3 linked regions of the Homo sapiens genome follow. The protein of the gene in region 3 interacts with the protein of the main gene of each other region in a pairwise test. Each region holds a gene or a part of one and is shown on either strand. Other genes may lie near its edges. The genes, in order: LYN, UNG and CD36.

What was found.
Region 1: the proteins of CD36 (region 3) and LYN interact in binary tests that used the Homo sapiens proteins (3 or more experiments, as listed by UniProt).
Region 2: the proteins of CD36 (region 3) and UNG interact in binary tests that used the Homo sapiens proteins (3 or more experiments, as listed by UniProt).

What each region holds. Positions count from the first base shown.
Region 1 is NC_000008.11:55,945,824-55,952,935, reverse strand, and holds part of LYN (tyrosine-protein kinase Lyn), read right to left. Parts: intron 6,489-7,112; coding exon 6,443-6,488; intron 5,319-6,442; coding exon 5,213-5,318; intron 2,478-5,212; coding exon 2,379-2,477; intron 2,256-2,378; coding exon 2,152-2,255; intron 971-2,151; coding exon 821-970; intron 1-820. UniProt on the Homo sapiens protein: Non-receptor tyrosine-protein kinase that transmits signals from cell surface receptors and plays an important role in the regulation of innate and adaptive immune responses, hematopoiesis, responses to growth factors and cytokines, integrin signaling, but also responses to DNA damage and genotoxic agents.
Region 2 is NC_000012.12:109,100,583-109,107,694, reverse strand, and holds part of UNG (uracil-DNA glycosylase), read right to left. Parts: intron 5,794-7,112; coding exon 5,696-5,793; intron 4,857-5,695; coding exon 4,768-4,856; intron 4,263-4,767; coding exon 4,084-4,262; intron 1-4,083. UniProt on the Homo sapiens protein: Uracil-DNA glycosylase that hydrolyzes the N-glycosidic bond between uracil and deoxyribose in single- and double-stranded DNA (ssDNA and dsDNA) to release a free uracil residue and form an abasic (apurinic/apyrimidinic; AP) site.
Region 3 is NC_000007.14:80,669,531-80,676,642, forward strand, and holds part of CD36 (platelet glycoprotein 4), read left to right. Parts: intron 1-422; coding exon 423-492; intron 493-1,446; coding exon 1,447-1,634; intron 1,635-2,391; coding exon 2,392-2,510; intron 2,511-3,239; coding exon 3,240-3,313; intron 3,314-3,824; coding exon 3,825-3,879; intron 3,880-4,452; coding exon 4,453-4,617; exon of another isoform or gene 4,618-4,890; intron 4,891-6,577; exon of another isoform or gene 6,578-6,853; 3' UTR 6,854-7,112.

The sequences.
Region 1 (7,112 bases), on a different chromosome or scaffold from region 3:
GGACCCAGAGTCTCAGGCCCAGGCTTCTCAGGACTGCAAAGTGGCACTGGAGACAGGGACATTGACCTGCCACTTCTAAATATTTCAGTGGTAGTGTTATATCCGTTTGACTTTACCAAGAATATACATTACTTTTACACACACACACACAAACACAGATCTGCAAATCTGCATTCCTATTCCAGATATTCAGATGCATTGTAAAAATATATGCAAAGACAATATATATTTTTCTCTTGGTAATTGTGGAACACTGAATGTCAAACAGCATGTACTAGGTGGGAAGGACTGGGAGAATTATTCACAAGGATCAAATCTTACTTTGTGTATTTAACTGTAGATTAATTAATTGCTTTTATTTTAGTATTTGTTTTTTGAGACAGAGTCTTGCTCTGTCACCCAGGCTGGAGTGCAGTGGCGCGATCTCAGCTCACTGCAATCTCCGCCTCCTGTGTTCAAGTGATTCTCCTGCCTCAGCCTCCCGAGTAGCTGGGACTACAGGCACGCACCACTATGCCTGGCTAATTTTTTTTTTTTCTAGTAGAGATGGGGTATCACCAGGTTGGCCAGGCTGGTCTCGAACTCCTGACCTCAAGTGATCCACCTGCCTTGGCCTCCCAAAGTGCTGGGATTACAGGCGTGAGCCACTGTGCCTGGCCTAACTATAGATTAATTTAGAACCACTTATAGAATATGACCTGCAACTGTATCTAAGAGAAATACGATGCATAAAAAGTTTTAATATAAAAATAGCGTTTGACGTCTTATACATATCATAACAAATATATCTTGTCTTGTTGAACCTTCAGTTTTTACTTACTTTGGTAATGTTTAATCATGTCGCTGATACAGGGAAAAGTGATTCGTGGAGAGATGTAATAGCCCCCATTATCCAGACTTCTAATTTTGTAGTGCTTAATAACATCACCATGCACAGGGTCAAAGTCTCTGACAGACAGAGAGAAGCTTCCTATGGGGGGAAAAGTGTAAGTAAATGTTTATATCTCACAAATAAGATCTGCATTATACAACAACTGCAGTACACATTTTGTGATACAAATATGCAAAATACATATATTTATGAAATTTGTATAAAATGCATAATTTTAAAAGTCCTATAAAAATTCTACTTGACAAATGAAGCTGGCATTTTGTTTGCTGTGTAGCTTGCCAACATACCATTTTCTTTCTTCATGATAATTTTTTTAAAATTATTATTTAGCTACATTTAAATTTTTTTAAGTTACTTTGATTTTCTTTTTTTTTTTTTTGAAATAGGTTGTTGCTCTGTCACCCAGGCTAGAGTAGAGTGGCACAATCATAGCTAACTGCAGCCTCCACCTCTTGGGCTCAAACGATCTTTCTACCCCAACCTCTCAAGTAGCTGAGACTACGATCATGCACCACCACAGCTGGCTAATTTTTTAATTTCTTATAGAAACAGGCTCTTGCTATGTTGCCCAGGCTGGTATCAAACTGCTGGGTTCAAGTGATTCTCAGTCTCGGCCTCCCAAAGCATTGGGATTACAGGCCTGAGCCACCACGCCCAGCCTAATTTTCTTTGTCTTAAAACTTCAGGATTTATTCAAATAATAATGCAAAAGGCTCAGCAAACAAAGCCTGGTAAGAACTGGCCACAATCATGTGTGCTTTCTACAGTACTTTTCTTTTCTTTTCTCTTTTTTTTTTGAGACAGTGCCTCACTCTGTCACTCAGGCTAGTTAGAGTGCAGTGGCGTGATCACGGCTCACTGCAGCCTCCCTTCCCTGGGTTCAGGTGATCTTCCTACCTCAGCCTCCAGAGTAGCTGGGACTATAGGCATGTGCTGCCAGGCCTGGCTAAGTTTTGTATTTCTTGTAGAGATGGGGTCTTGCTGTGTTGCCCAGGCTGGTCTCTAACTGCTGGACTCAAGTGATCCTCTCGCCTCAGCCTCCCAAAGTGTTAGGATTACAGGTGTGAGCCACCACACTCAACTATATTACTTTTAGTAGCACAACTAATCACTGAGGTTTGTTATTTGTTATCAAACCATAAAACTTTTACTACCAGAGCATACTATATGCCCTTTTTTCCCCTTGAGTAGCTCTAGAATAGTTTCTAAAAATAATTTCCTAAATAGTGTTTTAAAAGAGGCTTTGAACAATTTCCTACCTTTTAATGTTTCACTTTCTCTAATAAGGAAAGCTCCAGCGCTATTTCCTGGTGCCAAAAGCTGCCTTTCTGCGTCCTTCCTGGTTATATCCTTGAAAAACCACCTGTGAAGACATTTCAACATTTCCTGCATATTATGTTCCACGGCAAGAAAAAGGTGAAGAATATTAACAAGAAATCCAATGTGGCAAATAAAGCCACCAAGATGACAACACATGAGGACTCACTCTTCTGTTTCTAAGGTGTTGAGTTTGGCCACATAGTTGCTGGGGATGAAGCCTTCTTTTTTTGTTAAAAGGGACTTTGCTTTCCACCATTCTCCATGCCTAGAATAGAAATACACATCAAAAAGAAGCTAAAAGATTACATACTCCATGCATGTATCAAAATATCACAGATATCCCATAAATATGTATTTATGTACAGATATTACATATCAATTAAAAAATTAAAAATAAAGAAAACATAGACTTACCACAGGACCCAGCAACTATACTCCTTGACATATACCCAAGAAAGATGAAACCATAATGTCCACACAAAAACTTGTACATGAATGTTCAAAGCATCCTTATTTGTAAAAGCAAAAAGTAGAAACAACCAAAATGCCTATCAACTGATGAATGGACAAAATCTGGAATATCCATCCAGTGGAGTATTACTCAGCAGTGAAAGGAATGGAGTGCTGAGAGATGCTACAACAGGGATGAACTTTGAAAACATTATGCTAAATAAAAGAAGGCAGTCAAAAAGGACCACATATTGTATGATTCCATTTATGTGAAATATCCAGAATAGGTCAGTCTTCAGAGATAAAAAGTAGATTCGTGGTTTCCTAGGGCTGCAGAGAATGGGAGAGTTGAGGTGACAGCTAAGGGGTGCAGGGTTTCCTTTTGGGGTATTTAAAATGTTCTAAAATGGATTGTGGTGATGATTGCACAATTCTGTGACTATACTAAAAAAATCACTGAATTGTACACTTTAAGTAGATGGATTGTATGGTATTGTGAATTCTCAATAAAGCTATTAAAAAGAGAGAGAGAGAGACAAAGAAAAGAAGCCAGGAGTGAGGGTTTTGAATGTTCACAACACAAAGAAAGAATAAATGTTCCAGATGATGGATATGCTAATTACGCTGACTTGATCCGTACACACTGCATACATGTATCAAAATATCGCTCTGTATCCCATGACTGCATATAATTATTCCATGTCAACTAAAAATAAAAGGAAAAAAGTGTTTATATCCAAGACTCAACAGCTACAATAGCAATTGTCTCAAGATGTTTGTTTAGGATGGTGAAGGCGGGTGGAGAACATCTCTGGAACCCCAGAATCCAGTGGGAAAATTCACTCTCCGTGATGGAATTAAAATATGTTTAGAGACAGAAGCAAAGGAAAACAGCCTTACAACTAAAGCACGCATCACTGCGATCAGGGGTGCACAAAGAAGAGTTGGTACAAATGGCTCCCATCTCACAGAAACAAAAGGTTTGTAACTTGCCCCAGGATAGCTAAGAAATGCTTTCAAATCCTTATAGAAATGAGAGTCAAGGGAATACTGGTCCACAGTTCATGCATTATAAACTCCTTTGTTCAAACATCTAGTTATCATAGAGATGGACACTATGAAAAGAAGAAAACCATAAGACAATTCCAAGCAAGTGAGCTTCAGCACCATGCTCGAGTCCTCAGCAGAAAGGCAGGCATGGAGCCAGGGAGGAGGCAGGGATGAGCACTGGAAGAAGCAAGCAGGTAAGCTGGTAATGGGGGAAGGAATGGGTCCCTTTGAGCCTTAACTGCATTCCTCTATAAATTCCACACACAGACAGGATCCTTGTCTGTAAGGCATGAAGGCAACTAGAACTAATACTAAGCTCTGCATCCTCTTTGCTTATGTCATGTTTAAACACATGCATCATGCTCACATCAACCCCATGATCTAGGTACTGTCATTCCCATTTTATAAGTAAAGAAACCAAGGTATAAAGTTTAAGGGTCTTGTCAAGGTCATACAGCTATCAAGTGGCAGGGCCAGGATCAGGCTTAAGTCCCTGTTCAACCCATATGCAACATTGCTCTCAACCACGGAACACCTTGTCCTTAATAAGGGAGTCTCCCCCTCAAACCCTATTTGGCAGGTCACAGTGACATTTAATGCAAGATTAGTAAGAAAAGCAAGCTAGAATTAAAGCAACTGGAGTTTCTTATTCTGAGCACTGTCCTGCATGCCTATGGTCTGACACTGCCACATGTCTGAGTCAGCAAGAGGGGGTTGAGGAGATGACGACACTCAGGCGTCCTCACAAAAGCATGGCAGCTGCTGAGTTGAGAATTTCCCAACACAGCTGCTGTAGCTCAGTACCCTTAGAACTCAAGCTAGGCTGGGCCCATGAACCCAGTCTAAACATGAGTAATATAACAAAAGAAAAGTGACATTTCAAGTATCATGCATGGGCCACACAGACCCAAATTTCTTAAGGTGGCAAGAGTGGATAAAGAAAGAAACCAGGCTGGGTGTGGTGGCTCACACCTGTAATCCCAGCACTTTGGGAGGCCAAGGCAGGAGAATTGCTTGACAGCAGGAGTTCAAGACCAGCCTGGGCAACATAACAAGATCCCATCTCTACAAAAATTTTAAAAATTAGCCAGGCCTGGTGGCACATGCCTGTAGTCCTAGCTTCTCAGGAGGCTGAGGTGAGAGGATTGCTTTAGCCTAGGAGTTCAAGGCTGCAGTGAGCTATGATCATGCCACTGCATTCTAGCCTGGATGACAGAGAGAGATCCCATCTCAAAAAAAAAAATTGTTTTAAAGAAAAACCACTGTCTGTCTTCAAAGGGAAACCCCCTGAAGTGTGCTCACAGACCGACTTAAAAGGAAAATCCCTTTGGCTCTATTCCTTCCACTGCCCACTCCCTGTGGGTAGCAAGGAGGCCTCATACCCATTACAAGAAAGGGGCCGGGCTATGGCTGTAGCACCAGAAGCAAGACAAGGGGACAGCCTGCAGGACTCAGTGGCCTGAGGAAACGAGCAGCCGTGGCGTGCTTGAGAGCACTTACTCCTCCAGGACTTTCATCTTCTCTCCTTTCTTGAAAGACAAGTCGTCCGGGTGGATGCCATCATAGGGGTACAAGGCTACCACAATGTCTCCTTGTTCCTCTGGATCTAAAGATGAACACAAGAGAACACCTGTAAGAATCCATCAGCAGAAGCGTTTTAACAAACCTCATGGGGCACAAAGGATGAGAGGAAGCACTAAGAGGGGGCAACTGGAAGAAGGACATGTGCTTCCTGCCTAGTGGGCTCAGGGTCTGCACGGCCCACAGAGAGTACCTTGCTGTATACACTGTGTCCAGTATTTGTTCTTGCAAATCACTTAAAACTAAAACTATAAATACAACTCTATATTTAAGAAATTATACACCCATGTTCACAGCAGGATTATTCAAAATAGCCAAGATGTGGAAATAATGCAAACATCTATTGATGGAGGAATGGATAAACATCATGTAGCATTTTGGTTTTTCTCTTTTGAGACGGAGTCTCGCTCTTGTCGCCCAGACTGGAGTGCAATAGTGCAATCTCGGCTCACTGCAACCTCCACCTCCTGGGTTCAAGCTATTCTCCTGCCTCAGCCTCCCCAGTAGCTGGGATTACAGGCGCCCACCACCACGCCTGGCTAATTTTTTGTGTTTTTAGTAGAGACGGGGTTTCACCATGTTGACCAGGCTGGTCTCGAACTCCTGACCACAGGTGATCTACCTAACTTGGCCTCCCAAAGTGCTGGGATTACAGGTGTGAGCCACTGCACCCGGCCAGGGCATATACTTACAAGGAAATATTATTCACTATTAGAAGGAAATAAATTCTAACACTTTCTACAGCATGGATGAACCTTGAGGACATCAGGCTAAGTGAAATAATCCAAACACAAAAGGACAATTACTGTATGATTCCACTTCTAGGAGGTACCTAGAGTAGTGAAATTCATAAAGACAGAAAGAGCGGAGGTTGCCAGCGGCTGGGGGAGGAGGCAATGGGGACTTATTGTTTAATGGGTATGGAGTTTGAGAAGATGCATTCTGGAGATGGAGGGCGGTATTGGTTGTACAACAATGTGAATGTACCTAATGCTGCTGAAATGTATACTTAAAAATAGTTAAGAGGGTAAATTTTTATGTTATATATGTCCCACAATAAAAAAAAATAAAAACATTTAGGACAATCACTTTATAGAAGCTCTAATAGTAAAGAAAAAAAATTTTAACTATGTTGCTATGAAAACATACCTTTAGTTTGAAACCTCTGTCCAGGTAAAAGCTGAGATTCTGGAACCTACGAGAGAATATTTGTTAGAAAAAAAAATTCTGTTTAGCTTTTCTTACTCACATTCGTGTTGTATATATGATTTTTGTAACAGTAGCAGATGTTAGGATGGGCTCATTTATTAAGTCAGAAAGAACAGGAGCACAGAGGGAAAAACCTGTAGAGGTGCATCCTGCCCTGCTTGGCCAGTGACAGGGCTCTTTATCACTTGCTGTGGGTGGCAGGAAGGGAGCGAGGTTCTGGGCAGGTGCCAGGTGCTCACCTCATCCTAGCTCCTCCTCTTCTTTGGTGACAGAGCCCTAATATTATTTGGGGTGGCAGTTTGCCCAGCTCAATGAGTGTGCTTCCAAACTCTCTAGCCCCGGGCAGAGGGCAGAGGGAGTTTTGGTCCGCAGATCGGTTGTGCAGGGCTTTGCTGTCAGCTCCCCTTTTCCCTTGCCTCTTTCTCTCTCCCTAGAAACAAGTGAAGGCTGGAGTCTTCACATAGAAAGCAAACACCAGCGGCAGCAGGATGGAGACGGAAGAGGTGGGACCCTGGTGATTTCGTGGAGTTGCCGTCCCAGCCTGGGACTGCCCATCTGAGGCTTCCCCAATTGTATAAAATTGCATGGTCAGGGCTCTGTCCCTGGAGGC
Region 2 (7,112 bases), on a different chromosome or scaffold from region 3:
AATTAGCTGGATGTGGTGGTACATGCCTGTAATCCCAGCTACTCAGGAGGCTGAGGCAGGAGAATCACTTGAACCCAGGAGGGGGAGGCTGCAGTGAACTGAGATCACGCCATTGCACTCCAGCCTGGGCAACAAGAGTGAAACTGTCTCAGAAAAAAAAAAAAAAAAAAAAAAAAGAGGAATAGTCAGTGGCCAGGTGTGGTAGCTCACGCCTGTAATCCCAGCACTTTGGGAGGCCGAGGCAGGAGGATCGTTTAAGTCCAGGAGTTCAAGAGCCAGCCTGGGCAACGTGGTGAAACCCTGTCTCCACAAAAAAAAATACAAAAATTAGCCAGGTGTGGTGGCGCACGCCTGTGGTCCCTGCTACTCAGGTGACTAAGGTGGGAGGATTGCTTGAGCCTGGGAGGTTGAGGCCGCAGTGAGTTGAGATCAAGCCAGTGCATTCCAGCCTGGGTGACAGAGCTAGACCCTGTTTCAAAAGAAAAAAAGCAATAGTCATACATCACCTAATGACAGGGATGCATTCTGAGAAGTGTGTTGTTAGGCAATTTCACTGCTATCCGTACACCACAGGGCATCTTTACACAAACCCAAATGGGATAACCTACCACTACACACCTAGGCTATATAGTGTAGCTTATTGCTCCTGGTCTACAAACCTGTGTAGCATGTTACTGTACTAAATACTATAGGCAACTGTGACACAATGGTAGGCATTTGTGTATCTAAACATAGAAAAGATGCAGTAAAAATATTTTTTATATATATATATATACACATATATATATACGTATATATATATGTGTATATATATATATGTTTTTTTTTTGAGATAGAGTCTCACTCTGTTGCCAGGCTGGAGTGCAGTGGCATGATCTCAGCTAACTGCAACCTCTGCCTCCCAAGTAGCTGGGACTACAGGCACACGCCGCCACACCTGGCTAATTTTTTGTATTTTAGTAGAGACAGGGTTTCACTATGTTGCCCAGGCTGGTCTCAAACTCCTGAGCTCAGACAATCCACTCGCCTCGGCCACCCAAAGTGCTGGGATAACAGGTATGAGCCACCACACCCGGCCAGAATATTATAATCTTATGGGACCATCGTCATATATACAGTTTATGACTGAAACATCATTATGTGGCAAATGACTACTTTGATTTTTTTAAAATATCAACTATAGTTATTTTAACAGGGAGATATAGACCATTTTTGTTTTCCTCTTCTTTTCTGTATATAAAAACTAACGAACAAATCACTGTTTCTCAAAACACTCTTGCCTTCAAGGGGCTCAGTCCAGGAGGGGCGATGAGGGGTGAGGACTAAAGCCAGGCAATCCAGTGTGGTTAAGAGTACAGAGCCTGGAGCCAGACTGCCCGGGGTCGAGGCCTACCTCTACCCTCAGTAGCTGTACCACAGAGAAGTTGCTGCAACTCTAAGCTGCTTCAGTTTTCATCTGTAGACTGGGAATAACAATACCGCCCAGCTTATGAAGTTACTGTGACCAATCAAATGAGGATCACAGGGGCTGAGTGTGATAAGAAGTCATGCACACCAAATGCTGAACACACACGCAAGCAGCACAGGCCCCTGTAAATGTCAGCCCTGCAGAGCTCTAAAGAATCCCAGAAGAAAATGACCTCTACACTGTAGGCAGAGAAAGCAGGATATGCAAAGGCAGGGAAGTGGGGCACCGTGAAAAAGTAAAGGGGAATGGGTCAGCCTAGGGATCGGAGTGCAAAGAGGGATAGAGTTAAGTCTGGGAGGCCGATTGGGGGCCACCCCTCTACCCCCCTGAAATCAGATCTTCAGCCTAAGGCAAGGCCTTCCAGGGAGAAAGCATCAGAACCCTCCAGGCAAGATCAGGTGAGGGCCTGAATGAAGGCAAAGGTGGTCAGGCAGGGGTAGATTTGGAGGGGGAAGAAAGAACACAGATATGAATGACTGACTGACTGGGAAGGTGGAAAAAAAGGACAGAAGAGGGGAGAAAGAGAGGTAGGCAGGTGTCAGTAATAGATCTGGCTGGACAACTGGGCAGATGATGGTGCTTTTTGCTGCTAGGGAGTGCAGAGGAGGAAGTTTAGTGAAGCATGGATGAGAAAAGGAGAAACTTCGTTTGGAAAATGTTGAATTTGGCATGTTCATGGGGCAGTAGTAACAAGGCACTCTATAGATCAGAAGAGACACTGGGCTGGAGATATGCAATTTGGCTTTAATGACCAAGCTACTTTAACAACTGTTTACTTTCAGACCAAACCATGATTAAAGATTACCAATATACTGCGGAAGAGCAACACTGGCCGTAAACCTCCCTAAGGGATAGAGATTAGCAATTACTCTCACGCACACTTCTTACATACCTAGATGATCACATCTTAGCAGTTCATACCAGTCAGATCTTAGGTCACTCATACAAGTGTATGCCTACCTCAAAGCCTTTCTGAGAGTTAAGTAAGATTCTGCATGCAAAGTACTCAACCTGGTCGGGTGCGGTGGCTTACATCTGTAATCCTAGCACTTTGGGAGACCAAGATGGGAGGATCGCTTGAGGTCAGGAGTTCAAGACCAGCCTTGTCAACATGGTGAAACCCAGTCTCTACTAAAAATAAAAAATATTAGCTGGGTGTGGTGGCAGGCAACTGTAATCCTAGCTACTCAGGAGGCTGAGGCAGGAGAAGTGCTTGAACCCAGGAGGCGAAGTTGCAGTGAGCCGAGATCATGCCACTGCACTCCAGCCTGGGTGACAGAAAGACTCCATCTCAAAAAACAAAAGTGCTCAACCTAGTACCCACACAAGGTAGGGGTTAAATATACGTGCACATTTCTGATACCCCCGTTACCTCCTGCTGATACACCAAAAACTATTGTCAGGTTACCTCTGCTAAGCCCTTGCCTTCGATCATTGAAGCATTTACTCTATAATTTCTCCCCCACCCAATGTCTCTCCCATTTGCCAGGGATGAACACACCCCTGGCTCGTCTCCTTCCCACCCCCTATCTCTCCCTCCTCCACTCTGCGGCTCTCCATCAAGCCTCCATCTCTAGTCCATCACGGTTCTCCTGGAGAAAGATGATGGTGACTCATGCCTGAAGGGCAGCAGTGGCGAATGAGAAGCAGTAGACTGGGGTGTTTTGGGAGGCAGAGTTGATGGGATTTACTGATGGGATGGAGGATTCAAGGATGACTTTTAGGTCTCTGATTTCCACAACCAGGTGTAGAAGTGCTTCAGTGAGTGAAGGGAAAGAGGGAGGTAGCAGATAGGGGGAAGATGTAGGGAGGGGAGCCACTGGTTTGGTCGTGTTGGGTATCTGCAATTAGACCTTGGGGTTAATAATGATCACCGATAGGCCGGGTGTGGTGGCTCATGCCTGTAATCCTAGCACTTTGGAGGTTGAGGAGGACAGATCGCTTGAGGTCAGGAGTTCAAAACCAGCCTGGCCAACATGGTGAAACCCTGTCTCTACTAAAAAATAAAAAAAAATCAGCCGGGTGTGGTGGCGGGCGCCTGTAGTCCCAGCTACTCGGGAGGCTGAGGCAGAATCACTTAAACCCAGCAGGCGGAGGTTGCAGTGAGCCAAAATCATACCACTGCACTACAGCCTGGGCAACAGAGCGAGACTCCATCAAAAAACAAAAAACCCAGAAACAAAACAATAATGATCACTGATAGTATTTTCATGGGCAAGTTAAATTTGTGATTGAGTGGAATTCTTTGTGTTTTCTATATGTTCCCAAATTTCTTGGAAGCCAGAAACATGCCTCATCCATCACTTGTTAAGTGAATGGTACCCAGGGACTTGTATCTTGTAGACACCAAGTTCATGCCTACAGCACCAACTGCATTCAGTCACAAGTTGGCCAGTTGCTTTGCTTTCCTCATACACAACTCATCACCCCTATAATTTGTCCAAATTCTTCTCAGTTTTCAATGGGAAACCCTTATAACAGGCCTAAGGGAAAATAAAAGTTATTTTATAACATGGATTTTCCAGGACCAAACACAGCAGGGACTCCTAGAATTCTTTACATTGTTTTTATAGTGTTAAAAAAAAAAGAAAAAAAAGAAAGAAAACAAAACATACCCTATCAATGGCACTGCCCTTCTTCTGAGCATAAGAGCCCCAGAGCAAGAAAACAAGGCCATTCGAGTTCTGATTTAGCCAGGACACAACTGCATCAGTGAACTGCTCCCAGCCTCGCTCCTTATGAGAGTTGGCTTGATGGGCACGAACCGTGAGGACAGCGTTGAGAAGGAGAACACCTATACACATGAGAGAAACAGGTTAAATGTAGGCTCAGGCAAATCAGCCCAATACCCAGCAACAGGAGCTAAATCCATGATGAAACCAATGCTTGATGGGATCCAGTGTAGCAAGCTGTGCTTCCCTGCTGCAGCCGGCATAATGGCAGCAGCCACTACCATCAACAATGGAGTCGGGGCTGGGCGTGGTGGCTTATGCCTGTAATCCCAGCACTTTGGGAAGCCGAGTCGGGCGGATCACCTGAGGTCAGGAGTTCGAGACCAGCCTGGCCAACATGGTGAAACCCTGTCTCTACTAAAAATACATTAAAAAATTAGCCAGCTATGGTGGCTCATGCCTGTGGTCCCAGCTACTCAGGAGGCTGAGGCATGAGAATCGCCTGAACCTGGGAGGCAGAGGTTGCAGTAAGCTGAGATTGCACCACTGCACTCTAGCCTGGGCAACAGAGTGAGACTCGGTCTCAAAAAAAAAAAAAAAAAAAAAATCTAGCAGTCGCTGGCTTACCTTGCTTGGCCCACCCAGATAAATCTCCATGGCCAGGATGAACAAAATCCTCTATGTCTGTAGACAACTCTTTATAAATGTTCTCCAAACTGAAAGCAAGCCACAAGAAAAACAAAAAACAGAATCTTAAGCATAATTTTGAAAGCTCAGTAACGTCTAAGACATATGTGAAAAGGTTAGAAGTTACAGCCAGCCCTTGGAAGGGACACTGGCACATATGGCGCCGATTAATGAGATCAACACTGCCAGTCCTCCTTCTAACAGGTGACTCTGCCAAAGACCTTTACTTTAGTCTGTACTTGGATTTAACAGCACTCTGGAAAACCTAAGTAAATCAACCCAGCAGTTACAACCCAGACCCCCACTGTTGCTCAGGGACAGTTTTCTGTCCTTAGCATATTTATGTATATCATACACCAAATCCTCCAAAAGCAGTGGTTCTTTTTTTTTTTTTTCCAGTCTTGCTGTGTCACCCAGGCTAGAGTGCAGTAGCAGGATCTCGGCTCACTGCCACCTCCGCCTCCCGGGATCCAGCGATTCTCCTGCCTCAGCCTCCCAAAGTGCTGGGATTACAGGCGTGAGTCACCGCGCCCGGCCCAAAGCAGTGGTTCTTAACCAGGGGTGATTTTACGCCCCCAAGGGACTTTTGGCAATGTCTGCACATTTTTCATTATCACGAGCTGGGGGTTGCTCCTGGTTTCCAGTGGTAGAGGCCAGGGATGTGGCACAAGATCCTGCAATAGCACAGGACTCCTCTCCTCCTCCACAACAAAGAATGACTCAGCCCCAAATGTCAATGGTGCTGAGGCCGAGAAATCCTCCTCCAAGGCTAGTGAACAGTGCCCCAGATAGTCCCACTTGTAATAAGCTAAGTACACATCTGAAAGGAATCATGTCTGGACTGCAGTCACCTGTAAAGCAACTGTACCTGGGCGGAGGCGGAACAGGCCTTTGAACACTAAAGCAGAGCCCGTGAGCTTGATTAGGTCCATGATATGGATCCTGTCCCAGGATGACAACCTTCACCTGTGAACCACCAGGGGTCAGGAATTAAACAATACTGTAATGTAAGCAGCACAGACCCTGCCTCAAACAAACATAAACAAAACAAATAAAACACTTCTATGGCATAGATTGCTAATAGCAGAGTTGCTGGTCAAAGGCTAAGCGTATTTTAAACTTGTAAAGATATGTACCTAGCTGCTTTTTTAATTTTTTGAGACACGGTTTTGCTGTGTTGCTCAGGCTGATGTGCAGTGGTGCCATCACAGCTCATGGCAGCCTCGCCCTCCTGGGCTCAAGTGGTCCTCCCACCTGAGCCTCCAGAGTAGCTGGGCCCACAGGAGTGCACCACTATGCCCACCTAATTTTTTTTTTACTTTTTGTAGACACACGGCCTCCCTTATGTTGCTGAGGCTGGTCTCAAATTCCTGAGATCAAGGGATCCTCCCTCCTCGGCCTCCCAAAATGCTGGGATTACAGGCATGAGCCACTGTGCCTAGCCCCCAGTTACTTTTCGATGAATTAAAGCAATTTAGGGCCTGGCATGGTGGCTCACGCCTGTAATCCCAGCACTTTGGGAGGCCGAGGTAGGCAGATCACGAGGTCAAGATATCGAAACCATCTGGCCAACATGGTGAAACCCCATCTCTACTAAAAATACAAAAATTAGCTGGGTGTGGTGGCGCACACCTGTAGTCCCAGCTACTCGGGAGGCTGAGGCAGGAGAATCGCTTGAACCCAGGGGGTGGAGGTTGCAGTAAGCCGAGATTGCACCACTGCACTCCATCTCAAAAAAAAAAAAAAAAAAAAAAAAAAAAAGCAATTCAGATTTCCCACCAGCAGCATATGAGGGTGTCTGCTCCCCTATATCCTCTAACAGGTGGAGCCAGAAGAGAATGAGGTCAGATCAAAAGGGCCATGGGAGTAGGTGGCAAGAGACAATGAAATGAAATGAAGTTCCTGTCACGGGAGGTGTTGAAACATAGGCCGCCTCGTCCTTCCCATCCAGGGCCCACCCACCTAGTCTTCATTCTCAAGCTTCTGCCATTGCGTTCTTAGAATCTTCCTCCACAGCTGACATACTCTATCTTTCAGAATCCAGCTCCAGATGTTCCATGACCAGGAGGCTTTTGGGGACCTCTTGTCCCTCCCCTTGGTGTTCACACCATGCCAACATATTCTCTTGTGAAACAACTCTCCCAATGCTGGTCTGTCAAGAAGCCCTGCTGGCCCATCTGATCCTCATAGGTTTGAAACTGGTTTTTGAGCATTCCCTCAAAATATTCCTTTTAATATTCCCTGTTTATACTGATTACTGGTATTCAGAATAGGGCATTCAAACA
Region 3 (7,112 bases):
AATTATCCTGCCTCAGGATAGCTGGGATTACGAGCGCCTATCTCAGGATAGCTGAGGCAGGCCTATCCTGCCTCAGGATAGCTGCCTCCCAAGTAGCTGGGATTACAAGCGCCTACCACCACACCCAGCTAATTTTGTGTATTTTTAGTAGAGATGGGGTTTCACCATGTAGGCCAGGCTGGTCTCAAACCCCTGACCTCAGGTGATCCACCCGCCTTGGCCTTCCAAAGTGCTGGGCTTGCAGGCATGAGCCAGCATGCCTGGCCGGTTATTTCTTTTTACCTTTTAAAAATGTGGCTGCTAGATAAATTACTTAGGCAGTTTGCATTACATTTCTATGGACTACACTGGAGGAGAGATTTCTAGGTTTTTTTCTAGAACACACATTACATCTAATCATTTGCCACTCGATTTTTAAACAGATGCAGCCTCATTTCCACCTTTTGTTGAGAAAAGCCAGGTATTGCAGTTCTTTTCTTCTGATATTTGCAGGTAAGACAGATACTGAAGTATAAGTATGTCTGAGTCAGACCCCAGGTGACAAAATGCAGACCAAGAAACTTAAACACAGCATAGGAAATTCATCATGTTTATTAACTAACTCTTTGCAAAATGTTCTTCTGCATCTTCCAATTTTTAATAGTACAAATTTTTTTTTTTTTTGCCATTTCTATCTAAGCAAGAACCATTTTGCCTTTTAAAAACTAAACTAGTAGTCTATTAACGATCAAGTCCAGAAGGGCGTGCCCAATCTTTCTAAAGACATACAGAGAAGATGATGCAAATGTAACAGAACTGTGTTAATGTGCTCTGCTCAGATTTGTGGGGCCCAGTAGATAACACACAAGCACTGGAGCCTTTACCACTACCCTTGAGCCCAAGCTCTGTCCCTAAAGACTGTATGCTTGTGGGTAGGCATTTAACATCTCTGAATTTTTTTCTTATCTGTACAATTTAAGACAGCAGTATTTCTTCATATACGTGTATCTGGGGATAAGAAAAATATGTGTATTGAACCCTATGATAGACACTTGGTAAACGATGGAAATGTACCAGGTATATATCCAGCATGTATATGCATACACTCCAGTGAGTGGTCTTTCTTTCCAGGATTAATTAAGCCGTGAAAGAAACTATTTCATTTAAACTGATCACAAATAAAGTATTTGAAGGAAGTCCTATAAATATTTACTCTATTGGATAAATTGCCTGTGAGAAGTAACTTGAGTATAAATAAACATGGTACTTCACAAACAAGAATAGTTCATGCTTGGCTATTGAGTTTTAGTATGTGTTAAAATTTCCCAATCACTTTTTTTCTAAGAATGAAACAAGAATTTAAAAGAGTATATGATGTTTCTAAGTTAAAACAAGAATAAGAAAAAATGAATCTCCAGAATGTAAGTTCAGGTTCCTGGAATGCAGCTCTTTTTTCTCTGTATTTAGGTCAATCTATGCTGTATTTGAATCCGACGTTAATCTGAAAGGAATCCCTGTGTATAGATTTGTTCTTCCATCCAAGGCCTTTGCCTCTCCAGTTGAAAACCCAGACAACTATTGTTTCTGCACAGAAAAAATTATCTCAAAAAATTGTACATCATATGGTGTGCTAGACATCAGCAAATGCAAAGAAGGTGAGTAAATAACCTCAGTAGCACAGTCCATACCATAATTTGTGATATTCTTTAAGATGAGAACTTTACCATAATCCTTTAGCAACCAAAATTTAAAATATATCATAATTTGTGATATTCTTTAAAATGAGAACTTTACCATAATCCTTTAGCAACCAAAATTTAAAATTAAAGTAAGAAAGTAATTAGGGCAGAAGAAAGAATGGTGGCAGAAAATTTTAGTGCTGATTTTGTATTTTGGGAAGATCCCACTTGTGTTTCAGTATTACAAAATTTAGTTAAAACCACACCAGTATTTCCTTGTGGCTGCTTTTAGATTTAGGGTGAAATGAAAATAATTCCGAGAACACATTAAACATCCTGTTATTCATCTGTCCTAACTTTTTTCACTAGAAAATGGTACAGGTAAATGTATTTTCAGTATGTATCTAAAGCTAGAGTTAAACATAAAATTTGGAGACTAGCTTATCCTGTACATATTTATCATACTAACGTGGGTGTGGAAGAAGAAAGAAAAAACTAGTGTTAAATAAATTCTTAGTCCATAGACATATTACTGCCTGAAAGCTTTACATATTGAAAATTAATACTGAAGGAGTTTATAGTAGAAATCAACTGACATAATTCTTCCCCACCCATGTTAAAAACCATGTATTTTTTAATGCAAGAAGCTTTAGTTTTGTGGAAATATTTTTTGAGTTATATGTGAAATGAAGGAAGTTATTAATTCCAATTGACTCTTAAAACTTGTCTTCAGGGAGACCTGTGTACATTTCACTTCCTCATTTTCTGTATGCAAGTCCTGATGTTTCAGAACCTATTGATGGATTAAACCCAAATGAAGAAGAACATAGGACATACTTGGATATTGAACCTGTAAGAAAACACCTTATTGATCTGATTTGGTTGATATTTTTAAAAATACAATTGAAATAAAAATAATCTTGTCGATGATTATTTATTCAATAAATAATCATATTTATTGAATCACATTCTTGAAAGTTACTGAAACTTAGGTCGATTTCTTCCTATGGTTTATGAAGTGATTCTAATTGGCTTAAAATAATTTTATATAAATATTTATGTTTAGATGAGGAGTTATTGTATATTATGCAAAAGTCAAAGAGTATATGTGAGTTTGACTATACTTATTGTCAAAATCTATAAAATTGTTGTAGCGCAACAGTTTTAATCATCTTTATTTTTGTATTTTCCTTTTCAAAAAGTAAATGAAATTCTAGGATTTTAGTAGTTATGTTTTAGTTTAAACAATGACACATGGATTCTAACTGAATATATATTTGACCAGGAATTATCTGAGATCTTATATTTTGTTGCTGATTTTTGATTTTTTAAAAACCATTTCAAGTAACTCACAAATCTAACTAACTAAAACCTTGACATTCGATTGGGCAAATAAATTGTGTGTATCTATATGGATGCATGTGTATATAACTATAACTATATATGCAGTTTTAAAAGTTTCAATTAGTCCTGTTTAACCTTAAGTTACTACCTTCTCTTCTGCTGTAAGAAAAATAAGTTTTGAATAGTATAAAATAATGTTTTTAAAAGTTGGTAATTATTTAGTTGTTCTCTTTTTAGATAACTGGATTCACTTTACAATTTGCAAAACGGCTGCAGGTCAACCTATTGGTCAAGCCATCAGAAAAAATTCAGTGAGTCTCTTGAAAATGGTTATTTTGATATGATCTGTAGTATCGTAGTATCTTCTTGTAAGAACATGAGTAAATCTATGTAAGTAAGTGGAAATAACATCTGATATCAACTTATCTTTAGCTTAATGTCACCAATCATTATTAAATGCTTATGACTAATTTCACAGATTTTGGAATGGTTTTATGGTTTTATTTGAGCATTTGATAGCATCTCTTATTTTGTTAGCTGCCCAAATATTTCTATGACAATAATTAATTTTTGGAATTCATATTTCAGTTCCCCGAGAATTTATTGAAAGGAAAAATCCACACTTGTGAAAAAAAATCAATGTGATTAGAAGACATATAAGAGCAAAGGAAGTCAAAAACAACTATATTAAAATTTAAATGAGTCATTACAGGAACAAAATCAAATTAGCAACAGCAACTAATTTATGAACATTTATTTTAAAGTTTGTTATATATAAATATTAGTTTATATGTTCATAATTATTTTCAACGTATATTACAGAGTATTAAAGAATCTGAAGAGGAACTATATTGTGCCTATTCTTTGGCTTAATGAGGTTTGTATTTGCAGCTGTTAGTCATTAAAAACAACCTTCTTTGTATATAAACAAGCTCTTGATGTTTCAAAAGAATGTATAGTATTTAAAGCTATATGTATTTCCATTACCCATATGGATGAGTATACATTTATTTAACCTATTTGAGATGATCCAATTGAACAAAAACATTTCCTATCATTTAAGATTTTCTTCAAAAATGCATCTATTAAACACATTTTCTTGTTGTAACATTTGTCTTCTATTGCCTGACAAGGTATTTTTACTATAAATCCATGCATTGATAGCTATAAAAATAGGAAAAACATTGAATAAGTCTTTGGAGCAAATGAAACTGTTGACCCTTTGATAGTTCTGAAGAGCAAATGAATCCTAGTACATTGAAGAGTACCGTACTCTATCTGGCACTTAATTGCCTTTCTTGACTTGCAAAAGGAATTCCATTAACTTGCCTTATAGATACTGATGACTAACACCAATAGAGGTGTTAGAAAAAAGGGTGATAGGCAATTGAAGGGTTTATTTTGTTTTACTAACGTACCCAAATAATGTTGATTATTAACTTGATTACAGACTGGGACCATTGGTGATGAGAAGGCAAACATGTTCAGAAGTCAAGTAACTGGAAAAATAAACCTCCTTGGCCTGATAGAAATGATCTTACTCAGTGTTGGTGTGGTGATGTTTGTTGCTTTTATGATTTCATATTGTGCATGCAGATCGAAAACAATAAAATAAGTAAGTATGTACCAAAAAATATTGCTTCAATAATATTAGCTTATATATTACTTGTTTTCACTTTATCAAAGAGAAGTTACATATTAGGCCATATATATTTCTAGACATGTCTAGCCACTGATCATTTTTAAATATAGGTAAATAAACCTATAAATATTATCACGCAGATCACTAAAGTATATCTTTAATTCTGGGAGAAATGAGATAAAAGATGTACTTGTGACCATTGTAACAATAGCACAAATAAAGCACTTGTGCCAAAGTTGTCCAAAATTGACTGGTTCATTTCTCAATTATATAGCTAGTTATATATTATCTGATACTTAAAAATAATTGACTAGGAAATGGTTTCATAAGACCAGGATTGCTGCATGTAGACATGCTGGCCGTGCATTTTCCAAATCCAGAAAAGTCCTGAACAAAAATTTGAATATAATAGTATCAGGAAATAGGGGAAAATAGTGTTCAACATAGTAGAACCAAGTACTCAGAGTGGTGTACAAGAGTTTAGGCCTCTATGCTTTAGATATTAGTGTCCATGCACTCTTAAAGATGAATGAATGCCTGACCTTTCCTAAAGGAAAACCTTTTTTTAGTTATCACAGGTAACATTGGTGTTGCCTGTGGGGGAGAATTTTTTACTTTCTCCCTATTTTTCTTCAGCCCACCTCAAGGCAATGTAAATAAAAGCAGTATGTGTGTTATAATAACTTATTTAGTTGTTTACTGTGTGCCAGTACCATGCTAAAGAAAGATTCTTTATCTCACATGATCCCTAATACAATTTCATGATTTTCCAATAGCCTGGATTCATCAGCATCCATTCTATCTTCTAGAGATGTTCCATGAAATCATACATTTTAATTGTTTGTGACCAAAGCATAAATCAGTGAAAGTGGAATTTGGGGACCAATAATTTCCTTTTGTGAGATGGAGAGCTTGTGTTTGAAAAGGCAACCTAATTTTTGGTTCTAATCACTTCTACCACTATTTAGTCACCAAAAAGACAATAATTCTGCATCCAAACTATTTGGACAGAATGGCTTCAAAATGCTAGCCTAAAATGTTCACATTATAAAAAGTTAAATATTACCTTCAATACCTGTCAGTAGCCTACTGACAAATTATGACTAAACAAAGGTATTTGTATGACTATGTAATAGATCATCCGCTGAAAAGTAAAACAAAATAACAAAAAAACTTGTCCTAATGGGAAAGCATGCTTAATAAAAGGAAATGCAGAAGTTATAAACATGTTTTGTAAGTAAGTATTCAGAATTAAAATTATGTGATACATTTTTATGATTGCTTAATGATCCTTGGATGTCAGATTCCTTGGGTCTATTTATAGCTAAATTATAATGAAAAATTCAAGGCTTGCTGGAGCAACTTTGTCAACAAATATATTAGTTTTGCTTATATATTTGATTTTTATGTGGAAAAATTACTACCCTTTTTTACAAGCAGAGAATAAACTGTTGATTACTTGATTTACTAGATTTAGAAGAATCACAAAAGATATGTAGATTTTCTTAAGCAAAATTCAGCTCTTAATATCATAAAAATTATATCTTTGGGCAGATTTGTAAACAATAGGAACAAGTAAGAAGACAGGTATGTAAGAAGTAGCAAAGTGTAAGACGGTGGAGCTTTAATGTGTGGTTTTACTCAGGGGGTCACAAGAAAATAACCCAATGGTCCTTTTGAAAGTAGTACATACACCTTTAAATGGAACTTGGTCTGAAGGGTGTGGAAATGCTGGTCCAGGGCAGATGCACTTCAGCTACCGTTCCTTGCCTGGTGTGTGCTTGTCTTGAAGCACCCTTCTTATGTGCCTTTCTGGAATGGGAATGTGTTTTGCCCTATTGGTGAAGTCCGTTAGAGAACTTCTCTCTGCAGCTAGAGAAACTGAACTGATTAATAAAAAGTATGATATCTAAGATATACTGCCACTCTACAGGTAGTAAATGATTCTTCACATTTGTGCGCCAGCTACATCATGACCCTTGGTAATACCGACCAACAGGATGAAAATTGGATATGCTTTACTTTTACAAAGCACACCTTATCTTTTAGTTGAAGAAATGGTGGCACTATTTCTTTTTTTGCACTAAGCAACTGCACATTTCAAAAGGATTATTGAGATGTTATGAAAATCTCTACCTTGCACAAAAAAAAACCCAGCAGCTTTTAAAATTCATCATTTCCACAACTGAATTGATTTCCGTTTCTACAGACCTGGCTCAAGCACAAACCAATTTGTGTTGTTCTGATTCAATAATTGGTTTCTGGGTGGCCAATTCAGAAGAAGAGTGTACATGCTCAACAAATCCTAGGCCCTGCATTCCTGTCATCCTCATCCGGGGGAAACACCATCATCCCAGTAGCTGCCCTATTCAACTGCAACAGTCTCCAGGACCATCAGTATACTGCATTTCATGTGCACCAAATATTTTGAAAGACATTTATAAATAATTGGCTTATGACTCATATTT